Homo sapiens: one gene and its partner. The protein of the gene in region 1 purifies or fractionates together with the protein of each later gene. This does not show direct contact. Each region holds a gene or a part of one and is shown on either strand. Other genes may lie near its edges.

Region 1 (3,650 bases):
AGAGACCTAGAGCTTGAAGCACAAGGGCATATTAGCATAAAGATAATACAAACTAATAATATAAACTGGAAATAAAATGCTAAGAGGATACAAAATAGAAGATCTGAGTAGGTGGAGGTTAGATCAGAGAAGCTTCCTGGTGAAGACTCTTACTAGAGTTTAACATACAGGTAGGTGACAGACATGGATGGGCAAAGTAGTAAGGAAGGTCTCTTCTGGAACCAAAGGGATGAAAGGGGCAGAAATATAGAGGCAGAATTAGTGATTCTTTGCTTAGTAAGTGAAACAGGCTGGCCAGAACAGAGATGCTGGAGAACTATAAAAGCCAAGGAAGATCCAGGATACAGCTAATAAGAAGCTTCAAATGTAAGGCAAAAGAGCCTTAACTTCGCCTGCCTAGAAAGAGGAGTATATTCTGGAAGAGGAAGTAAGAGAATGGAAGAGCAGGACATTGCTCACCTAGGCCTTGCTCCTCTCCACAGTCAGACATTCCTGCCCCAAAGCCAAGCTTATAAAATCAAGAACTAGGCCTTTCCCCAAAGGACAGATCCCCACCAATGTCCATGCCAAGCACACCTGCCCAGATGTAGGCAGCACCCTCCCTCTACAACCTCTTGGCCATGGAGGATCCCAACAGCATGTGAATAAGAAACTACCAGTTGAAGATCAAAGAAAGAATTAGAGGCTGGAGATCACCTAGAAAGCTATTGCTGAGATTAAGAGGGCATGGATGAGCAGGAGAGCTGCAGAATGAAGACAAAAACCCATGTTGATAAAGCCCCCAAAGCAGCTTAAAGGATGATTAAAAATGGCCCTTAGGGAGTAAAGAGTCAAAAGTAACTCCAAGGTGGGGAACTTTTGATATGAGTCCAGGAGGGAGGGGAGAGCCATAATGATGGGGAAATAAGTTTACTGAGAGGAAAAAAGATAATTAATTTCCAATATTTGAGTTACAAATTAACAACATCCACATGGAAACATCCCTGAGGGACTGATGGCAGAAAAAAGGGATGAGGACAAGACAAAAAGTCTGGAGCTGCTATTACAGTTATTGTCAATTATGAGATTGGACATGTTCTCCAAGCAAACGAGCAGATAGCAGAGCCACTGGGAATGTTACCATTAAAGAGCAAGAAGTGGGATCAGCATAGGGTACAGTCAGAGAGGTAGAAGCAGCCGGAAGTGGTATCACAGAGAAGCTCTTAGACAAAGTCATTTGTGGTGTCAAATGCAGCCCAATGATCAATCAGGTGAGAATATAAGGAAAGACTTCCTGGGAGAAGGTAGCTGATGTTTTAGGGGAGGCTTCAGTGGAGCAGGTGGACCAAAAGGTTCAAGGCGGGCCAGATACAGGCTTATACTTCAGGAGTTTAGTTATAAAAGGCAAAAGTGAGATCAGACAGAATGCAGAAGGCACCAGACTCACATAAAGCTTTGCTTCATCTCTGGAGCAGCAGTGTGGGAACACTTAAAGACAGAAAGAATAGAACAGGTAAAGGGGGAGAAAGAACTAAAGAGTTAAAATAAGAGAAATTAGGAGCAGAAAACATTAAACATGCAGCAACTCCAGTTGCTAATGGCTAACAGCCACCACAATTGGACAGGCTGTGTGCTACAACTTAGATCGTAAATTTGTGTATTTACTATGAAACATTTTTTGGCAGATGGCAGTATAATGTCTTGAGGAAAGGGCACCTTTTCCTAATTAACACAATGTGGCCACCCTGGCTCTCATTCAGCCTACTTCTGGCTTTCTGCTACATCTAGAGGATTTTCCCCACATATATGGAAAGCTACGCATGCTCTCCACTCTCCCCTAGAATTCTCTACAAAGTCAAGCCTCATCCATCCAGAAGGAGCTGCTTGAAGATCTCTGTAGTGCTGGGGGTTGTTCCTGGGATAGGCCACCCAGACAGGTAGGCAAAGGCTCCATGGAGGGATCAAGAAGGGGTGCCAGCCCCACCCCAACCATCATTCCTTTTCCTTCACTCTCCACCTCCCTCTACCAGCCTCAAATCACCACTGCACCTACCTGCTCAGCGTTTCTTTGGGACTGCAGATGGGAGTGCAAGCGCCGGATAAGAGGGACACCATTCCGTGCCTGCCGCTTCAACAGCCAATAATTGTGAAGCCGCTGCATAAACTGGTTTTTCCTCTGAAAGGAGAGACCACTACAGATCTTGTTCAACCTTGAGTAGAGGCACACGGAAGTGAAAGACAAGGTCAGTGGGCAGCCCAGATTACAGCCTGTGCATCCTATCCAGACCTGGTTCATTTCTGAACCTTATACAGGAAGACAGAATAAAATGGCCAAATACCTCACCTCAGAGAAAGGCTTGAAAAGGACAGTAAAGTTAAGCAGCTCAGATTCAGCATGAGTTATTTCATTTGCTTTTCCACCTCTTGCCTTGCAGTCCTAATCCTCCAAAAGAACCATCTCCCAGAGTCCCGTTTCCTATGGTCCTGGACTTCCTTGTTCCACGTACGGACTGAAAAACAAGCCTATGCCTCAATACCCCCAGCCTCCTCTTATAAAAGCAGCGAAAGGGAACAGGAACTGGGGTAAGCTATGGTTAATGTGGCCACTATTTCCTGCCTTCTGCGGCTGAGAGTCCCATCAAACCAGGGGGTAGCCCACAACCAGGCTGAGCCCAATGCAACCCCTTAGACTTGTTTGACGTCTGGTTTTTCATGGTATAAACCTCAACAGCCTAAAAATGTTGTTTAATTTTGAACCAAATGAAAAAAAAAATTGGATCTAAAGATGTAAGAGGATGGGAAATGTGAAAACCCAGCTGGCTAAACTACTCAAAAGTCTTAAGGTCAGGGTTTAAGCCAGTAACTCCTTGGGGGAGGAAAAGGGGTAGGAGAGGAACTAATGCAAGCCTATAATATCTGTCTTTAATATCCATATTGCAAGGTGGGTATCATTATTTCCATTTTACAAAAGATGGAAAGGCAGCATAGGAACAGAAGCTGAATAAACTGTCAAAGTAACTAATACAGCTAATAAGATGGTGGATCCAGGTTGGATTTGAATCCACGATCTCTCTGCTATACCATGGTACATCCCCAGACTGGTTATCCACAGGGTAAGCAAGGCCTCAGTGCTCTTGTGGTGTTTCCTCTCCTTTTTCTCTTCATGCCACTCCATTGAAACAAAGATAAGCACAGCTAAACAAGTTGAAACCTTAGAAGGATGGGCATGTTGGGCAGGACGTTGCTCACCTAGGCCTTGCTCCTCTCCACAGTCAGACATTCCTGCCCCAAAGCCAAGCTTATAAAATCAAGAACTAGGCCTCTCCCCAAAGGACAGATCCCGACCAATGTCCATGCCAAGCACACCTGCCCAGATGTAGGCAGCACCCTCCCTCTACCTCTTGGCCATGGAGGATCCCAACAGCATTTGTGCAGGTAGGGAAAAGAACAGCAATAATAAAATAGCAGCAGCAGCAGTAGTCACCATTTATTGAGCACTTACTATTTGCCAGACACTGTGCTAAGTGCTTTACTTATATTATCTCATTTATTTCTCACAACAACTCTATGTGGTGGGTTCATTTACAAATAAACTAAGGCTTAGAGCAGCTAAGCAACTTGCCAAAAGTCACAAAGGTACTAAGTCACAGAATTGGGTTTCAAATGTAGGT
Region 2 (3,650 bases), on another chromosome or scaffold:
GACCAGCCTGGCCAACATGGTGAAACCCCATCTCTGCTAAAAAAAATTCGAAAATTAGCTGGGTGTGGTGGCGGGTGCCTATAATCCCAGCTACTCGGGAGGATGAGGCTGGAGAATCACTTGAATCCAGGAGGCAGAGGTTGCAGTGATCCGAGATTGCGCCACTGCACTCCAGCCTGGGTGACAGAGCGAGACTCCGTCTCAAAAAAAAAAAAATCATTTAAGTCCAAAACCATGATAAGAGGAATTGGATGAATCCAAAACCATGGTAGGAGACATTAATGTTTCTCTGAAATGCGTAGACGACGTAATCCAAATAAGGTTGTGGAAGATTTTATAACACAGGAAATGAGCATAAACAGAGACAATCTGCTAATATTTGTTGAGCGGTTAATGACTACTAGGCAGTTTTCATAGCACTTGCCTCCTAGTGAAAAGCTTATAACGCAGGCCTCACAGCTGTATGATGAAGTAGCTACTGCTTATCATCTTCCCTGTCTTACAGATGGAGAAACTGAGGCACAGAAAGGTTCCCAGCTAATAAGTGGCTATGCTGAGATTTGAAGCCAGCAGACTGGCTTGTTGAGTGTTCTCTGTTCTTGATGTTATGTTCCACTGGAACTTGGGAGATGCATTTGGGACTGACATCCTCGGACTGCACTTGGCATCAGAACCATCCAGGAACAAGGAAAGCCATCAGAGCCATGAGTGACTGGGGCAGTCAGGTCACCTGGCCCTGATTCTGCGCTCTGCCCTTGATGAGGAGTTGCCTTGCTGGGGCTGTGTTTGACTTGAGAACCAGAGTGCCCATGTTGGTCAGCATTCTCTTAATTGAGCGCTATTGCTTATTAGGGCATGATCTTGCAGGATGCCACCGTTAGCCCAACAGAGTGCCAGGGCAGCAGTGGAGCCGGTACTCAGTCGTTTTGTCAGGTCCAGACAGACCTCAACTGGCTAACAGTGTCAGCAGGAGCTTGTGTATGGAGCTGCCTGCCAGGGACATGCCACATCACACAGTGCTGCCAATGCTGTGCAACACACAGCCACCTTACTTCTAGTTGGCTTGTCACTGGTAATCTGGAACCTCATCTAATAACTGATATGTCGCTACTTAATATCAAACAATCTGAAAGCCACCTGAAATACTGCCATACTTACTAAGCAATATTCTTCTTTAACACAAACTGAAATCAAATATTCACAAAAGTCTGTTATGTTTGTTGTGGGGTGGTTATTTATTTATTTATTTTTAAAGAGATGGGGTTTCGCCATGTTGCCCAGACTGGTCTTGAACTCCTGGGCTCAAGCGACCCACCTGCTTCCGCCTCCCAAAGTGCTGGGATTACAGGCGTGAGCCACCACGCCCATCTTAAAAGTTCGTTATGTATGAAATCACAGAGAAAATCACAGCACACCCAGGAAATTCACGTGGGCCACATTATGCCAATACAGCAAACTAGAAACCAGCAACAACCAAAATAAAACATGTTTCTGAATAACTTTTGAGTGAAGGGTAATCATAGCTGAAATTAGAAGCAATTTAGAAGGAAGTGGCAAGAAGAACATTATATACCAGATGCAGTCATAAAAATACTTAAGAGAAAGAGTGACTTCAGGTGACTTTATTAGAAATAGTGGGCCAGGTGCAGTGGCTCACACCTGTAATCCCAGCACTTTGAGAGGCTGAGGCGTATGGCTACCTTGAGCCCAAGAGTTTGAGATCAGCCTAGGCAACATGGTGAAATGTCCTCTCAACCAAAAACACAAAAATTAGCCAGGCGTGGTGGTGCGCGCCTGTAGTCCCAGCTACTGGGGAGGCTGAGGTGGGAGGATCACCTGAACCCAGAAGGTCGAGGCTGCGGTGAGCTGTAATCAACTCATGAAGCTAGAAGGAAAATGATGAAAAAAGTAAAGACACTAGAAGGAGAAGGTTTTTTTTTTTTTTAAAGATAGGGTCTTGCTCTGTTGCCCAGACTGGAGTGCAGTGGTGCAATCACAGCTCACCACAGCCTCTCGACTTCCTGGGCTCAAGTGATCCTCCCACCTTAGCCTCCAGAGTAGCTGGGACTATAGGCATGCACCACCACCCTGGCTAATTTTTTTATTTTGTGGAAATGGGATCTTGTTTTGTTGCCCAGGCTGGTCTTGAACTCCTGGGCTCAAGCAATCCTCCCGCCTCAGCCTCTCAAAGTGCTGGGATTACAGGTGTGAGCCACCACGCCCAGCTGAATATTTTTCTGTTAGTACATGTAGCTCAACCTTCTCTTTACTGTTCTCATCATGATGACTGGGTCATAAGATTTCACACCTGGGCCGCAGGCTCCTTGGTTAATGTTCTCTTGTGGTTCACATCACACTTTCCTTGATGCAGTCAAAAGCTCACCGAGCACTCATCCTGGCTGGGCCATTTAAAAGGTGTCAATTCTGCCTGCCAGGGTGCTATGGCTCCAAGGTGACTGGTTTGTGTTTCCAGGCCATCAAGAGCTGGGAGCTCCCTCACGGCTGCTGCTGATGGAAATCAAGGAGGAACTCAGTTCAAACTCCCGATTGCCCTGTGGTCACTCTTAGCAGGGCAGCTGTCTTGGGCCTAGCTCTGGGTCCTCAGTAGAGCCAGGCAGAGCCTCTGAGACAGGAGAGGACAGTGAGGAGTTGGCCACTTAGAAAGGGTTTGTGTTTGAAGGAACAATTTGGGACCTGGTGGTGTTTTCATAAATGTCCCGTTATGCTTGTTTTGTTATCTAGGTTTTTGTCTGATGAAAATAGTCTGGAGTATAAATATTACAAGCTGAAGTTGGCAGAAATGCAGCGGATGAGCGAGAACTTGCGAGGAGCCGACCAGAAGCCGACCTCAGCAGACTGTGCAGTGAGGGCCATGCTGTACTCCCGGGCTGTCCGCAACCTCAAGAAGAAACTCCTTCCGTGGCAGCGGCGGGGGCTCCTCCGTGCTCAAGGGCTCCGGGGCTGGAAGGCGAGGAGAGCGACCACCGGGACCCAGACCCTCCTATCCTCAGGCACCAGGCTGAAACACCACGGCCGGCAGGCTCCAGGCCTCTCACAGGCAAAACCATCCCTGCCAGACAGAAATGATGCTGCCAAGGACTGCCCGCCAGACCCAGTTGGACCTTCTCCTCAGGACCCCAGCTTAGAAGCCTCAGGCCCATCCCCCAAGCCAGCAGGAGTGGACATCTCTGAAGCACCTCAGACCTCTTCTCCCTGCCCATCTGCTGACAGTGGGTGCTCACTCCTGTCCCCCTCCTCTGGGCCCCAGTCCCTACTCTCCCATCTCCAGGGTCTCTTTAGAATTGGGGGGGCCTGCAATCTAGGCAAGGCAGTGGATAAAAGCTCTAGGGACCTGGCCAGGACAAGTGTACATGTTGGCGCTTTCTCTCTTGCTTTCTTGAGAGAGCTGCATGCGAGTCCTGCAGCTCCCTCCTCCTCTTCTGAGAGCGGAGCTGGTATGAGGTGCTGCCCCATGCCTTCGTGCTCCCCGACAGGGTCCTGCTGCTGGGGCCGTGGGCGGTGCATTGCCTGAACTTGGGATCCCATGTCCTGCTATATCCTGGCCTCCCTTGATAGTCTTCGGGACTGCCTTGTTCTCATTGCGCCTCCTCATCCCCAGGGTCTCCACAGTTCCTGTTCTTGGGGTTCGC

What was found. Proteins that work in one complex are often made in the same cells at the same time.
Region 2: the proteins of BRPF3 (region 1) and SUGP2 purify together in Homo sapiens (affinity purification with mass spectrometry, with the first as the bait; one large-scale study listed by BioGRID). This does not show direct contact.

The regions. Positions count from the first base shown.
Region 1 is NC_000006.12:36,203,197-36,206,846, reverse strand, and holds part of BRPF3 (bromodomain and PHD finger-containing protein 3), read right to left. Parts: intron 2,190-3,650; coding exon 2,033-2,189; intron 1-2,032. UniProt on the Homo sapiens protein: Scaffold subunit of various histone acetyltransferase (HAT) complexes, such as the MOZ/MORF and HBO1 complexes, which have a histone H3 acetyltransferase activity.
Region 2 is NC_000019.10:19,009,435-19,013,084, reverse strand, and holds part of SUGP2 (SURP and G-patch domain-containing protein 2), read left to right. Parts: intron 1-2,742; coding exon 2,743-3,230; intron 3,231-3,650. UniProt on the Homo sapiens protein: May play a role in mRNA splicing.